Regions from separate parts of the Homo sapiens genome. Here region 1 is linked to region 2. Evidence: fine-mapped expression QTL. Tissue or cell type: blood mononuclear cells. Region 2 holds a variant in brackets; the other region holds the start of a gene. All regions are shown on one strand. Distances are from middle to middle.

The links. PIP is the estimated chance that this variant, and not a neighbour inherited with it, causes the effect.
Region 1: it holds the start of TNS1, and the variant in region 2 is fine-mapped to the expression of TNS1 in blood mononuclear cells (TOPMed, PIP 0.97).

Annotation. Positions count from the first base shown.
Region 1 is chr2:217,998,507-218,006,506 of GRCh38, reverse strand. TNS1 (tensin 1) reads left to right here and starts at 3,512. Exons shown (of 33, transcript NM_001387777.1): 1 at 3,512-3,667. The coding sequence starts at 3,635. RefSeq lists enhancers at 2,227-2,326, 4,067-4,567, 4,568-5,068.
Region 2 is chr2:218,031,441-218,039,760 of GRCh38, reverse strand. It overlaps a transcript of TNS1 not described here and a transcript of RUFY4 not described here. Among named protein-coding and RNA genes, the nearest start is that of TNS1, 33 kb to the right of the region's middle. RefSeq lists enhancers at 3,426-3,515, 4,371-4,903, 4,904-5,437, 7,556-8,112 and a silencer at 4,528-4,577. The variant C/G (reference allele first, on the strand shown) is at 4,851.

The DNA of each region.
Region 1 (8,000 bases), 33 kb after region 2:
TGGTGACAAAGGAAAGGCTTAACGCCCTGGTAGGAGAGGGGTGGACATCAGTAAGAATATTTTGGTGGACAAGAGTCAAAGGAAAGGAAGAGTGAATTGGATGGGGCTGGGGCCTTGGCCTGGGAAACTCGTGTCATCGCAGAAGGTGGAGCTGGAAGGGACCTTGGAGGCCATCAGTCCTGTTATTCTACAGGTAAAGGAAACTGAGGCCCAGGGAGGGGCCTGCCAGGCTCAGGCTCTAAGGCCATTAGCTCATTCCTGACCACACTCACCCTTCCTTCTGCCTTGGCTCCACCCTCCTCCAGCCCCAGGGCCAGCACCACAGCCCACAGACCTGACTCTGTTTCTTCAGCTGGCTGCTGAGCAGGGGGCTGGAGGGATGAGCGGAGGGAGGTCTCCGCATGCAGCGGGAAGGCAGAAATGGGGATGGCACAGGGTTGGGGCTGGGTTCTGAGGCTTCTGGGATGCCAGTGTAGAGCCCCAGCCAGTCCTCCAGTGTGTACTCCATGTCTGCTGTGTGTGAGACAGGGGTCTGGGCACAGGGTGGGGATCCCAAGATGAATGAAACCATCCAGGCCTGCGGAGAGTCTGCAGCTGGCTAGAGCTTGGGAATGGGGCATTGGCAGCAGGCAGAGGTGGCTGCAGATAGGGTGGCACTGAAATTGTGGGCAAAAGTGTACAGGCAGGGCTGCCTGAGGCCCTTTTGAAGGGAAAAGAAGGAAGGTTTGGGAAGGAGGCAGTGAATGCTTACAGTAGGAAAATATGTTAGGATCCATTGACTAATTGATTGAGTGATTGAGTCATTCTTCAACCATGTCTGGTGCCTGCTGTATGCCAGGCTCTGGGGATACAAAACACAGGACACGTCCTTGCCCGTGTGTGGGTTGGGGTGGAGACACCAGGCTGTGAAGGAGGAATAAAGGCTGACAAGCCTGGAACAGGGTCATTACACACAGTTAGAGACACCTCAGTCGGCAGAGTTTAACATTCAACAGGGAAAATGGTGGTTAATTAGCAGGAAGGACATCTTGATGATAAGCGATTAATATACAGGAGAGACCCCATAGGCTTGGAGAAGAGGGATGGGGGTATTCTGGAGGGAGGGTTTCTCCAAGGGAACCCCCAGCACTAGGGTCCCCTACTTCCATTCACAGTCCTAGCTGAGGAGTCTGGGGAAGCAGCAGGGCCTCCTCGGGCTGTGTAGGAGGCCAGACAAGTTGGTGTCACTGTGACTTGGTTTTTGGTTTGATTTTCCAGCATTTCTGGGAAGCCCCAAGGTGACTTCTCAGAACTCCAGAGAAAGCTGCCTGGAGGCGTCTTCAGTGACGCCAGCAGTGAAGGGCTGTGGGAGCAGGCAGCGGGGAGCTTGGTGTGAGTGGGCACTGGGATGTCAGGGCTTAGCTGGCTGAAGGCTTGAACTTGTCAGGGGACAAGGGCAGCCTGGCAGAGCTGGTGATAGTGGCTGAGGAGGGGCTCAGGGGCTCTCAGAGAGGCCTCCTGAAGACCACTCCCCTTTGCTTGCCTGGTGCTCCAGCCAGGGGAGACGGGAGGGTTTGCAGAGGTTTCTGTCTATGGACATCCCCAGCTGTGACTGCAGGGCCAACTGCATGTGGAACACTGGTTCATTTCAGCGTTGGCTAAAATGTCAGTGAAGCCCCAGGAGGCTTAGAGTAGGGGGTCCAGAGGGACATTGTGATCCTGGCAGGGAAGGACACTAGAGGCAGGATCTTTCCCAGCCCCAGAGCTCTGGAGGACTTGGAGAAGTATGGAGAGAGGACCCTGACTCCTCTACCGGAACAAAGACTCTTCACTCAGGTACCTGCTTTAGGAAGGGCTGGAAATTGACACTTCACTTCAGTGTCCTCCCCTGACTTCTCAGAACCACCAAACAATAGATGGTTAGTCCCTTGTGCTGTGGACAACCTGTGTATCTGAATACTGCAGTCTTTTTTTCAGATGAAGAGTCAGTGTTTCCCCTTCATTCTGGGGTTTCCCAGGTAGATGTCTTGGGTGGTCCCTGGGCTGGGAGTTGGCACAAGTGGCTGGGCAGATCCCTGTGAAAGAGGAGGCTGGTAGTTGCACGGTATGTGGTGCTGACAGACAGCGGCATGGCATGGCCTTGGGTGAGTGGGGGGGGGAGGCAGGGGATCTGTAACCCTTCGTGCATGTGGCCCCAGGGCATGTATAGCACAGTGTGCATAGGAGGCCAGGCAAGAGAACTTTTCTTGCTAAGTGACTCAGTCTAGGAACGAGGTCTCCAAGTGCCTACTCTGGGAGGGCTCTTATGTGTTGACGTGAGTTGGACTGTGTCCTTGTGTGTGTGTGTGTCCACAGGAGGGTGTGGGGCTGAGCCCTCCCTCCTTCTCCTGGACAGCTCCAAAGAACAGAGCGGGTGATTCACTGGCCCCCACCCACCCTCAGTTGGTCCAGCCAAGGCCAGAGCTCAAAGAGGAAGGGTTTTTTTTGGAGGGGAACGTGGTGGTTCCAGACAATGAAGGCCTGGGGCAGACTTTGCTGGATTCCCCCTTAGTGCTCCGTGGGAATACTTTTGGGTTTTGACCCAGCCTCCTTTCCACCCTCTAGACCCCCAACAATTGTCCCTGGGCAGAGGTGGGGGCGAGGGGAGGGGAGGGCTGGTGGGCAGGGGACACTGAGGGGAAGAAATAGGCCTGTGGAATGGTGGGAGGGGAGAACTGGGCCCAGGGAGGGGGAGAGGGGAGGAGGGGGAGGAAGTGGGGAAATGCAAACCAAATGTTGGCCCCGGGTACAGTCAAGAAAAACACACTCTCGCGGGAGCCTGGAGCGGGGCTCCCTTTCAGAAGGGCAGGAAAGGCTGGGACAGATGTTTGCAGGAAAGAAAGAAAGAAGGGGGAAAAAAAAAGAAATAGGAAAAAAATTGGAATGAAACCCACAGCCTGGGGGCAGGGCCATTCTTCCCCAGTCTCGGGCCCTATTTCTTCTGTGTTAAGGCCTGTCCTGGGCTCTGAGCTTGGCGCGTGGGCACCAGAGTCTGTCCCAGTCTGTGTGTGCAAATGCATGTGTGTTCCGAGGAGGCCAGGAAGGCAGGCACGGGTACTCAGAGAAGGGGAGGGGCCAAGGCACCCTGAGTGTGCTGATTGTGTGGGCCTGGGGCTGTCTGTTCATCCATCAGTGGTCTGGAGGGTTCCAGGAGTGAAGGCCCCCAGGCTGGTTTGCCAGGGGCGGGGGTCTGCAGTGAGGAGGGAGGACTCCAGGCCTACCAGCACCAGATCAGAAGACTGAGGAGCCTTGGTGGCACACAGGGGTTGTGTGTCCGGGGGTGGGGGGCACGGCCTGGGGGGGCCCTGCCTCTGGTAGCTTTCCCTTTTCCCTGTCCCCTTTACACCCCCTGCAAAGCAGGGTTCCTGACCCTCAAGGCCACCGGTGGAGCCTGGGAGGAGGGAGGAGAGAGGAGGCTGGGACGAGGGGTGGAGTGGGGGGAGGAGGAGGAGGAGGGAGGGTGAGCTGGAGGCAGCAGGGCGAGAGGCCCAGCAGATGCTGGCGGAGCCGGAGCAGCCGCGGACTCAGAGAGCCCTTCTGCCAGCGCCGCGGGGACTCTAGCTTCAGGGGCTCTTCACAGGCCCTGGGCGTGCCTCAGTGACGGGACCCAGCAAAGATGACGTGGATCTGTCTGTCCTGCATGCTCTGGGTAGGTCTGGCTGCTTTAGCTGCGACGTTACTCTTCCTCAAACCCCCCGCCCCCCACCGGCCCCTGCCACCTTATCCTTTTGCTGAGAGCCCGGGGTCGGGGGGTGTCAGTCTTGAAGGAGGGGCCTTTCTGTCTCTGACCTACAGAAGGACAGACTGACTTGAGCAACCCTCAGCCGGAAGACTTTCCCCACCAACAGGGCCCAGGCCCAGGGTCCCGGGTCAGTACATCCCCTGCCCCACCCCCCCACCCCCCAATGGAGTCCCAGAGCTGTAAGTGGAAGGAGGCCACAGAGAAGTTTGCTTCTCTTTAGAGCCTTTCCTCCCGACTTGCATCCTACAATGGGGTGAAAATTCTTCACCGCCCCCCCTCAGTTGCTGAGCCCAAGATCTTGAGGAGGAGGCAGTGGTGGGGCTGGGGAGCAAAGAATAGTAGTCCAAAATATTAAGTCTGGAAGAGCTGGGCTGTGGGAGAATTCTCAGAGTCCATCCCTTTTATTCCTTCTACACCCAGTTTCAGCTTCCACCCACTGCCATCCCTTCCTCCACAGCCCTCCCCTGCTACCAAGACCTCTCCATCCTGGAGGAGGGAGCCATGGCCCGCTCTTCCCCCTTTCTCTCTTGGCTCCAGGTTCAGGGAGGTGGGTTTCAGGATGGGGATGCCAGGGGGGCCAGCAGAGAGGCCTGGGGGCCACGTGGTGAAGGTTAAAAGTCTTAAGGCCAGACCTGGGCTGAGGCTCCTGGGTAAAGGGGGATGGGAGAGGGCTGCCTGCTGCAGAAGGGCTGGGGGTCAGAGGAGGAGAGGACCCCTTCCTCAGAGGGGCTCCTGTGGGGCTGTCTTGGCCAGGCAAAGGCATGCATGGGGTCAGGAGGGTGAGGAAGTCGTCCCTGGCTGAGGTTACTGTTGGGCTCTGAGAGAGTGATGGCTGGTTTGGGGGAGGGGGCTTCAGGGCTGTGATCCAGATGTGGCCTTTCCTGTCCCTTTCCTTGTTCTGGCCAGTCCTCGGGAGGGCCCTCTTGGCCCAGGCAAGCCCATGCTGGGGGCAGTTGTGGGAACACAAACTCGGGCAGCCAGGTGTCCTCTGGGCAAAGAAAGAAAGGGTGGGGGAGGGGGCCTGGAATGAGGCGGTTTGGGTGGCATGTTGGGCTGGGGTGCTGGGATGGATTGGATTAATAGATTGAGAGTGACTGGGGAGGCCTGCACACAGGATGCATTTGTGGTTTACTGGGCTGGTGTTGACATCTGGGAAATGGGAGCCTTGGCCAGGTTCGTCTCTGTGCTGAGGACAGAGGTAGGCAGGAGGGAGCTCTGCAGCAAGAAGGATGGCAGGTAGACGTCCAGGGGTGACACAAGAAGGATGGCAGGTAGACCTCCAGGGGTGACGAGCTGCTGTGACTGGAGAGAGGGCTCTATAGATCCCTTCAGCTGACTGATACTGGGAAAAGTGCCTCATCCTGGTGAGCCTCTGCTTTCCCGTTGGTGAAATGAGGATTGCAGAGAAACAGGGTACAGAGAGGTAGGGATGAAATTTTGTATCCAATTCCCCAGGGCAGTGCCTGGCAGGTAGAGTGCCCTATGGGTGTTATACCCTCCCTGAGAGTAAGGGGAAGAGTCTGGGGACCAAGGCAGCTGTGAGTGCTGCTTCCTTGAGTGTCTTTATTTTTATTTATTCATTTTTTTTTTAATTGAGATGGAGTCTCACTCTGTCACCCAGGCTGGAGTGCAATGGCATGATCTTGGCTCACTATAACCTCTACCTCCTGGGTCCAAGCAATTCTCCTGCCTCAGCCTCCCGAGTAGCTGGGACTACAAGTGCGTGCCAACATGTCCAGCTAATTTTTTATATTTTTAGTAGAGATGGGGTTTCATCGTGTTGGCCAGGCTGGCCTCGAACTCCTGACCTCAAGTGATCCTCCCGTCTCAGCCTCCCAAAGTGCTGGGATTATAGGTGTGAGCCACTGCGCCTGGCCTTGAGTGTCTTTAAGACTAGAAAAGCCTGTGTCCCTCCCCTGTCTCCTTTTCCTCTCCTCTCCTAGTCCCCATCCTTTCTAGGCTGGCTGTGATGCCCATGGCCAGGATGGGCCAGAGACTGGGGCAGTAGGGACTGGACAGAGGAAGCAGTCCTGGCACCAGATAGGACTAGGCTCAAACCCTATTTCCATCGTTTGGTATGGGCAGGCTTGGTAAAGCAGTTCCCTTCATGAGCCTCAATTTCTTGATCTGTAAAGTGCAGAGAATAATATACTCCTTGTATGGCTAGGGTGGGGAAAGAGACAATAGATATCAAAAGATCAGGTATGTAGGCATGCAGTAGGTGCTCAGCAAATGCTGGCCCCTTTCCCACTCCACAGTCTCCTGCCTGGTTCTTGGGATCCTCTGTATCCCAGACCTGATGCTGGGGGAGGATCTCCCTGGGAATGGTGTCATGGGACAGGGCTCTACTCCTTGGGCTCTACTCCTGGGCTGACTGCCCAGGGACTCTGACCAGCTACTCTGAGGCCAGGAAGTGACTGAGATAGTTCTTGTGCCCTAGAGTGAGTGCTTGCATCTATTGGTTCACATGTTCCTGTATGGGGAAAGCTGCAATTGTGTCATCTAAGAAGTAATATATCTGTAGTGCATAGTTTTAACAAGTCCTAGGAATAAAAATCACTTTATTAGCTGAGGAGCAGAGCTATTTATTATGCATAACTTGATTTTCTCATCAAGTGCTCCCATTTGCTATTACATATTCAAGTACGGTTTATTTAGAAAATAATTGCATGCCTAGCAATTGAGGCTTTTTGATGTTGTGCTGGAGGAGTTAGAGGTGGAGGCCCTTCCTTCCAGAGGGACTCACTGGTCCTCAGGAACTGGGAAGGGGCTCAGGGTGAGGCTGAAAGAGCCACCAGGCAGGGGCTGGGGGTCAAGTGCAGCTTTGGCTCTGCCCTGAGCCAGCTAAGTGGTCTCAAGCTGGTCACTCGACTTTTCTGGACCTCACTGAAATGTGGGCTCTATTCTCTAAGGCCACATCCAGCTGCAGACGATGATGTATTTTGTTTCCTGGAGTTGGTGTCCTGCCCAGTGCTAAGCACACATTTTTGACAGAAGGGTCCTCATGAGCTCTGGATTCCTTGTGCACAATTCCGGTCATGCAGACATCAATCTGACTCTTTGGTCCTGAACTCGTTCTCTCTAGTTTGGTTGACCTGTAAGGGCCTCCTGACTGTGGGTTTGGGAGGTAGGCTGGGCTGCATGAGAATCACCAGGGTCTGAAATAAGACTCTCCTTTTGCAAAGTTTTGCAAAGTAATGTGTGAGGCACAAAATTGGGAAGAGCACTGCCCTTTTATTCTGCAGTGTTGAAAGGAAGTGTAGCATGCTGGCCGAGAGTGCAATGCCTGGGCTGGATCCCGGGCCTGTCACTTGACAGCTGTGTGACCATAGGCAAGTAGTTTCACATCTCTGTGCTTTGGTTTCCCCACCTACCTATAGGGTTGTTCGGTTTTGAATGAGCTAATCCACACATACATTTAGAAAAGTGTCTCTCACATGTAAGAGCTCAAGAAATGTTAGTGCTTCTTGTAGGATGGCACATTTTCAAGGCTACCCAGCAAGTCAGAGTCAAGACTCCAACCCCATCTGCTGCATCCTCTGCCAGGCTTCTCCATTCTGGGAATGCTTTGGGGCAGGACATGTGGGGTCCGTGGGAATCAAGCCCTGAGAATGACGCATGAGCCCTAAGTCAGCGAAGAGGACTGTGGCGGGCAGCCCAGGGTCAGGGCATGGTGTTGGGGAGGTCGTGTGATGGAAGAAGCATCCCATCATTTGGCTTTCTAACCACACCCCCCACGCAGCTTTCCATCCTTTTCACGGATTATTATGGAGGGCCTGCTCTCTTCAAGCTGCTTGCACATACTGGCACATGATTGCAAGCAGGATGGGTGTTACCAAGAGGGAACCTCTGGGGGATGTAAGGGGGACCTAACCTGGACTGTAGGGAGAAGGTGTCAGGAAAGACTCCTCGGGAGGTGAATTTTAAACTAGATCTAAAGATGAATCTGGCCAGGCACAGTGGTCACACCTGTGATCCCAGCACTTTGGGAGGCCAAGGAGGGAGGATTTCCTGAGCCTAGAAGTTCAAGACTGGCCCGAGCAACATAGTAAGACCATGTCTGTACGAAAAATAAATAAGTTATCTGGGCATGGTGGTATGCGCTGGTAGTCCCAGCTACTTGGAGGCTGAGGTGGAAGGATCACTTGAGCCCTGGAGGTCAAGGCTATAGCGAGCTATGATTACACCACTGCACTCCAGCCCAGGCGACAGAGCAAGGCCCAGGGCCATGGAGGAAAGG
Region 2 (8,320 bases):
GAGTCTGGATGGTTAGCAGAGAGACCATAGAGCTGGGGCAGTCCATGAATGGAAGAGCTGGGGTCAAGGTCACTGCTCCCCCCATCTCAGTAATGGAGAACGGCTTCTCTGGGAACCTGCCTTAGCTTCCCCCAGCAGCTAATGTCTGTTCCCTGGCTTGAGTCTTCTGGCACCTTCATCAATTCTCCATTATAACATGAACCCTACTATACTGCAGTGATGTGTTTACAAGTCCACCCTCCCCCAGCCTGTGAGCAAGAATCCTCTTCCATTCATCTTTGTGTTCTCTTTCAGGGACTATAGTAAGTGCTCAATCAACGGTTGTGGAAATAAATAATGGGAGACATTTCTACTGTGATTCATGGACCATGTGTCACCACCACAATTCATTGTCTATTGCTTTTGGTCACACACTCATACCACAGGTATGCCCGAACACACAGCCCACCTGGTCTGCCTGCCATTGTTCCTTCCCAACCATCCTCTAATGGTAGTGTAAATCTTGCCCTACCACAAATGTCAAATTTATCATGCCACAGATGCCTACAATTCTGCCACTGGCAAGCCTATTTTTAAAGGTAGATCATACTCTCCTGCTGGGTTCTCTTTTCATGTATAAATAGTGACAGGAAGTTTAAAGAGACAGTAGCCACTCTCAGTTTGCTTTTACCGATGTTGGTTTATCTTGCTGTGATGCCCCTTCCTTACTCACCGATAGAACCTCCATTGGATGAGGATGGTCTAAACCAGTTATGCAACCGATTGCCCACTCTCCCAGACTTCTTTACACCTAGTGGTGGCCAAGGATATGATTTTTGCTAATGAAGGTCAAGGAGAAGACTGCTGCAAGCTCTGGGAAAGCCCTCGCTTTTCCTACCAAAGAGAAAGAAAGACACTGCTTGGCACCCTCTCTCCCTTTTCTTTCCTTTTGCTTGTGACTGCTAGAGCTGCAGCAACCATCATGGGGCCATGAGGAAAAGGGCAAATGAATCGGAAAGAGGGTAGTCAGCCTTGGAAGTTACTGAGCCCCCAACCAACATTAGCAAATGTTATGTGTAAAATAATACCACCAAAAACCCCTCACCCGCTATGTTTTTAAGCCACTGGGAGTCAGATTTTTGTTACTAGCCGCTGAGGGCACTCTTCACTGATAACATGATCATCTAATTTGGGGTCTTCCAAACTTCCATCATCTCTAAACCACCTTTCACATTTTGGCCATGTCTGCTGAAGTGTAATATTCTTTAAATCAATTCACTTTTGTTAATTTAATTTAAAATGAATATGTAATGATTAAAATGAAAACAGATTCACCATGAATCACCCAAAACTGTGCATTTTTACTGATGGAGCACTTTGCAAAAGCAAACTCAGCTCTGTCTATGTCTCTGATGCCCAAATTTCCTTCTTAGTTGCATCATCATAATAAACACAAATAAGATGTTTAACTATGGCCATTTCAAGACATATTGTCCACAAATAATTGCTTTTTTTTCTGGTGTTTTTCTGAAAACTTTTTTTTTTATTCAAGCAGCTGTAATTCTAAGGTGTTATGTGTTCAAGGAGATTCATGGAAAGGACTCTGATAACTTTCATGGAAAGGTTTTTGATAACTTTAAGATCATACCATTGGACTGGGTAAGAATTTCCATAACTCTAAGGAAGAGACTGACGCTATCATGAAACTTAACCAAGATCAAGAAGAACAAAGTAATTACATGAGGTTAAATGAACTGAGGAGGATAATGTTTTTTATGAATTTTTATTTGAAACTTTGCTGGTTCTTTAAATATTTTGTTTGCCATAGTTTAGGAAACTGTTTTTTTCTTTTAAACTATCTATAGATTACAGAAATTTGGCCAAATGTACTTTTGTGAACAAAAGTGGAAACACTTACTTTTTCTCCACATAGGATCCTTCCAGAATTCAGAAACTATTTGTGAGTATTCTTGTTGGTATGGTAATATAGTGATTTGCTTCTGTTCTATAGGAATCGGTTCTCTTTATAACAGGATATATTGACAGTATTGGGTATATTACTAGGGCATTGACTGGGATGTCATATTTGAAAATGTCCAGAGAAGGAATCTATAGGTATTGCTGGTGAAGTCTGAAGTCTGCCTTGGTTTGGCTTTCTAGCCTCAAGAGGTTTTAAAAAATCCAATTTGAGATTTCCTATCAAAAGTTCCAACAAAGCAAGCTTTAAAAGAAAACCTCTGTGGTCAATTGCTATGTTTGCTGCATTTATTTAATTAGTCAGGCTGTGTTTGATGAGGCTAAACTTATTTTGCAAACAAATTAGTCTTACTTTGATTATCTTTGGTAGAAATGAGAGTGAATGTAGAGAGAAAAATTATGTTTCGGAAGAAAAATTATAGTGTGCCTGTTATTAGATTGTAGCCCTGCTCATTGTTTTTCAGTTTATTATCTTTTTTTTTTTTGAGACTGAGTTTTGCACTATTGCCCAGGCTGGAGTGCAGTGGTGCTATCTCCACTCACTGCAACCTCCGCCTCCTGGGTTCAAGGGATTCTTCTGCCTCAGCCTCCCAAGTAGCTGAGGTTACAGGCGCCTGCCACCACGCCCGGCTAATTTTTTGTATTTTTAGTAGAGATGGGGTTTCACTATGTTGGTCAGGCTGGTCTCGAACTCCTGACCTCAAGTGATCCGCCCGCCTCAGCCTCCCAAAGTGCTGGGATTACAGGCTTGAGCCACTGCACCCAGCCTCAGTTTATTATCTACCTGTAGACTGGACTGGATCTTGATTCCTTCTAGATTCCTCCAATCCAATTTTCTCCCATGGAATTACAAAGAACAAGAACTGCTCTGTTCCTGAAGCCTTATAAGCTGGAGCTGGGCAACTTAGTGTACATTTCAAGGGAAAACCTTCATGCCTGATGTGCGTGCCACACAGAGTTTCACCAAAATACCTGATGCCATAACCAGAGATATTTAAACTGCAAACCAGAGTGAGAAGTTGATGACTTCACGCTGTGGACAGCTTTCCCCAAAACACTGAAGAAGACTCCTCATCGTGGTGAATCTCTTACCTCTCTTAATTTCTCCTTGCTTATGTCTACCCCTTTCACTTGGCAGCATTATGCTGTAATTAGGATTTCACAGCCAGTAGCTTCTGTGGGTAACTTGAGGGAGTGTTGGTTCTGTCACATCAAACCCAAAGTTTTACGTCATCTAAGAGATCCGTTAGGCCACCCAGTGGCTGACTTTAGCAGCATCCTTAACTCAACTGTTGGTTCAAATTGGAACTGTGGTCCCTTTTATAGAGTTAGACTTCTAGACTCACTCGTTCTCACCCCCTGTTTTAATTTAACCCAGTCGTAGGATGCTAGATAATGTGATTCCTTGTGACTTGGACTGTGAGCCCAGGAAGAACCCTGAGTCTCACTGCCCAACTCTCTCCTTACACAAAGGAGGATGCAGAGCCTCCTTTGTGTAAAGTCCAGAGAGGGAAAGACTTATATCTGGCCACACAGCAAGGGAAAATCCCAGCTCTATTTTGTAGGCCAGGGTGTGAAGATGATGGTGTGGCCTCCACCGATTGAGCAGTCCCTGGGCGACGACACTGTGCTAATTGTTTAATATCTTTGTCCCATTCAATCCCCACATAACCCTGGGAGGCTAGAGGGGAACCTGGGGCACAGAGAGGGTAAGTCTTTTATCCAGCATCACAGAGGTTCCCAGGATTTGAACTCAGGTGTGTGTGCCCACAGGGCCTGTGTTCTGGGCCCTGACTTGGTGTGAGCAGCCCCGTGAGGGTTCATGCCATGTGGACACTAGGCTGGGAGTGTCCCCATGTTCCCCATGGAGGGCCCCCAGCCTCACCCGGGTACTCATCCTCCTCGAGACACCCACTCATCTTTTCCTGGGCCCCAGCTGAATGGAAATGTGTGTTCTTTGAGGAGAGGTTGCAGAAGTAAAGCGCGGCCCCAAGGCTGGAGCTGAGCAGATGCTGCGTGTGTGGGGGGAGCAGGGTGCCTGGTTTTAATACTGCCTCTCTCCTGGGGGATCTCATCCTCTTCTCCTCCCAATGGATCCTGGGGCCCAGACGGGGACACTGTGGCCCTGAGAGCAGGTGGCCTTATTCTGAGATCCTAGAGTCAAGACCAGGCATGGAGCGGAAAACCCAGGTGTCCTGCCTCCCGGGCTGTGGCTGCTGGAGTTTGGGGTGGCGTGGCAGTGGTACAGCAGTGGGACACAGTGGAGGGAAGGGGAGAGGGAAACGGAGGTAAATGAGGGAGGTGGCTGGGGCATGGGATTCAGGGAGGACGGGGTCAGGAGCCCAGAGACCTGGGTCTCCATCCTGGCCTGGCTACACACTCACTGTGTGATCTCGGGCAAATCACTCACCTTCCTTGAGCCTCAGTTTCCCCACCTGTAGACCAAAGATTGGACTGATGGTCTCGGCAGCCCCTTCCAGCCCAGATCCTGTGTGAAATCCATGAACGGCTCCATGTGTCTCCTCCTCTCCCTCGTCTCTGCCAGGCATTTTCCTCCCCTGGCTCCTGGCATCACACTCCTTCTATCCCCGTAAGTTCCAGGGGTCTCCCTGCTACTCACCCAGGAGAGCCTGGCTGGCTGGGGCACGACAGCGCGGCTCTGCTGCCAGAGTCCGTCCCTAGTGACTGCGCAGGGAAGAAGTGGTAGAGGCAGGATCCAGGGCGCTGGGGCAGAATGGTGAGATGGGGGATGGGTCCTCTCAGGCCCACCTGGGGTAGAGTCACCTGTTGGCCAAATGGGGGCTGATCCATTGTGGTAGCTGGGACTGCTGCTAGTTTCCTTTTCGTTTTCAGCACCTGCTCTTGCTTTTCTTCCTTCTCGCCACCAGGGGGCA[C/G]AGGGAGGCCATGGAGCTCCGCAGCTGCTATTCCTGTGGTTGTCTCTTCCGTGTCGCTTGGTTGGGCTGTGAGGCAGCGCTCCAGAGTGGGGAGGGGAGGTCGAGGGCCCCACCACGCTCCTCCTTCCTGTCTCCACCTCAGTCAGCTGAGGCGGTCCCCCTGAGTGCTGGTCATCAGTGCCGACCCCCCAGGCCTGATCCCATTCCCAAAAGGATGGATGTGAGACCACCAGTGAGATCCTGTGCGCAGCAATGGGCCGGGCGGGTTTCCCCGGTGGGCTGGGGTCCCCCACCCTGGCTGTGCTCTGCCTCCTTGAGCCTGGGGTCTTTCCATGCCGGGTCCTCGTTTCTCCAGGCTCGGCTGCTCCAGGGGCTAGTATTAGGGAAGTGGAGCAGGGGCCTGGGAGGACGGCTGTTTTCACAAACCCCAGGAACCGCATCTAAAAACCAGCACAACGGATGCCCGAGGGTTTCTATCCTCGGCTCCGTCCTGCACCTATATCCCCCATGCGGAGGCTGCTTCCCCCATCTCTGTCCCTCATCTCTGCCTCTTCCTCATTGTCTGCCTTTATCTTCTCCCTGTCCCTCTGTCACGTTCTTGGTGTGTTTCTCACCTTGCCCCCCAAGTCAGACTGTCTGAAGTCCCTGTCCCAAGGACTCCACCACTGCCGCCCTCCCTTCTCCCCTCCCTGAGGTGGGCTTCCTCACTGGCTGTGTTCGGGACCTGTATTGCAGACCCTTATCAGGCCCCACAGTGGGGGCTCCTGTCGCTGCTGGACATAAAGGCAGGGACTCTGTCGGGGCCAGGCTGGGGTCGTTGCTGCTCGCCTGCCAATGTCGCAGGCGCTCTGGGCTGAGCTGTCGCAAGGGCTGGGGGCGGGCCGGCTTCTGGGGCTCCCGCGTCTCCGCCCCTGCCCGCCGGGGCGCCAGGCCGGATGGGCTGCACTGTGAGCCTGGTGTGCTGCGAAGAGCTGCGGCCCGGACCACTCTGCGGTCCCCAGCCCCCGGGGAGTCCCTGGGTCTCGGCGCGGGCTGAGTGCTGGGAGTCCGGGGGTTTGGCCTGTGCAGAGAGAAGGCAGCTACCGCTTCAGGTAGGGGCTGCGGGAATGGGTGAGGGACGACGCCCCGAGTCGGGAGCTGGCGGTTGGCAGAGCCCAGGGCACCTGACACAGGTTAAGTAGCCAGCCCAGGACGGTGCTAGTCTGCTTGGGAAGTGCGGCAAGGCAGGTGGACCAAGGGGGAGGAAGGACCACGACCGGGTGAAGGGGCCTCCAGTTGGGTAGAGGGCTCCCCTGGGTCTCTTGTGCCCTTGGGAGGAGGGTGATATAGGACCTGACCCCTAGAAGGGCAAATAGGTTGGGTGAGGTTGGTTTAGGAGTCACCCAGGAGGGGCAGGCCTGGAGTGCTGGGGCAAGGTAGGGAAAGAGTTAATCTTCCTCGAGCTGGACCAAGGGGCAGCTCTGGCAGTGTCCCTTCATTTAGGAGGACTCTGGAGTTAGGAGGGTGGGGGCCCCACTGGAGCAAGGACTTCCCCAGGATGGTGGGGACAGGCTGGCCTCTCACCCCTGCCTTCTCTGTGCTGGGTAAGTCTCAGAGACTAGCAAGTGGGGAGCTGACCTGGCAGTGGGGACAGGTCTGAGCTGGGAGGCAGGTGTCTGCTCTGGAGGAGTCTGCCAGGGAACCATCAGGCCTGGGATAGGTGTGGTGCTGGTTTCTTCCTGGGAGAGTAGGAGGAGGTGTTTGGGGTCACCAGGGATGGGTAACTCCTCTCTAGGTCCCTGTGACCTCAGGACTCGCTGTTGGTGGGTCTTCTTTCTTCACCCTGTGTCCCTGCCTCCCCACCTCCCACACAGCCAGCTTTGACATGGGGCAGGTGCCTGTTGGGCCAGGTAAAGGTGGGCAGGGACAGGGACAGGGAGTGGGGCTGTGATGGAGGGAGGAGCCGGGGCTCTGGAGGTGGATGATCAAGGGGAGAAAGAGGGGAGGGTGTGTGTGCCGGTGTGTGACAGTGGCAGGGAGAGGGATGGGGACGAGTGTCTGCATCAGATGAGCTGGTTTCTAAGCGGCCTCTGGAGAGAGCCTGGAGCTCGCCTGTGACTCCCTCCCTCCTCTGTCTGTGGGGATCAAGCTCCATCCCAGCTGCTGTGCCCTGACTCTGGCTCCAGTGAGGGTTGCTGCTGCTCGGGGCTCCCCCCTTCAGGGGTTTAGGGAAGAGCAGCCTGCACCCATCACCTGGGGCCTCACTAGAGGAGGGGTGATACCCTCGTTCTTGGGGCAGATAAACATCTCCTGGGTGCTGATCCCCTCAAAAGCCAAGAGTCAGTGGCTACCCAGACATCTGGGCTGCCTGCCAGGGCGCACCCACTGCCAGTCCTGCTGCAGACACACCCCCCATTCCTGCCCCAGGCCCTGCCGTAGGCCCAGCATCTCTCTTTGACCACAGCCTGAGCTCCTGCTGCCTGTGTCCACACCCAGCCTCGCTATTCTCCTGTCCCCTCAGCACAGCCCTCTCCTACCCAGGCCACATCGCCCCCTTCCCCTGTCATGCTGCCTCCTCCTCCACAAGCAGGCTGTCCTCCTCCTTCTCCTGGACTGCCTTGTCCCCCAGGCCCCATTGCCCACTCCTCTTTCTCCCCTGGCCAGCATTTGGCTCCTGCTCCTCCCCTTGGCTTTGAGAGGGTGCATGCCTTGGCTCTTAAGCCTCCAAGTCCAGCTCTGGGTTGTCAGTGCCTGCAGCTGTGGGCCCTGCCCCTCCCAGGTGGCCTCTCTAGGTCCCACAACTGCCCTACACCCTGAGCCCTCCTATGGTCCCACATGTCAGCCTCAGGAGCAAGAGGTTGGGGCTTGGCACCCTCCTGAGTCCTCCAGCCAAGCCTTCTGGGTGCCAAGGGGCCTGGCGGGCATCTCCGGGTGCCAGTCGTGCCTCCTTGCTCTCTGCTGTATCCCAGGACAAGTGGGTGCTTGTGGATGGGGCGGGAGCAGTGGGGAGGAGACTCCTGGCTGCTGTTGCCTCTTCCGTTTCTGCAGTCAGCTCTTCTGGGCTCTGCTTCTTTCAGCCCGGAGAACTACTGAGGTTAGACGTTCTCCTGGGGCCTGGTCCTGCAGCCTCCCCTGCATTCCTGTTGTGGGGCCTGCAACCCTTTTGGAAGTTCTAGGATCTGGTCTGACTCCCTCCCCCATGGGTTGGATGACCTCCTCTTCCTCTCTTTCTTGTTATGTAGAATCAGAGACCCCAGAGCTGAAAAGGATCTTAGTGCTTCTGAGCCTTTTGAGGACACAGATCCCTTTGAGAATCTGATGTAACCTATGGGTGCTCTTGCTAGGGAGAAGGTGCACACACACACAGACACACACATACACTCATACACACAGGCACACACACACTCACACAAGACACACTCATACACACAGACTTGCTCACACACAACACACACTCATACACTCACACACACAGACATGCTCATACACAC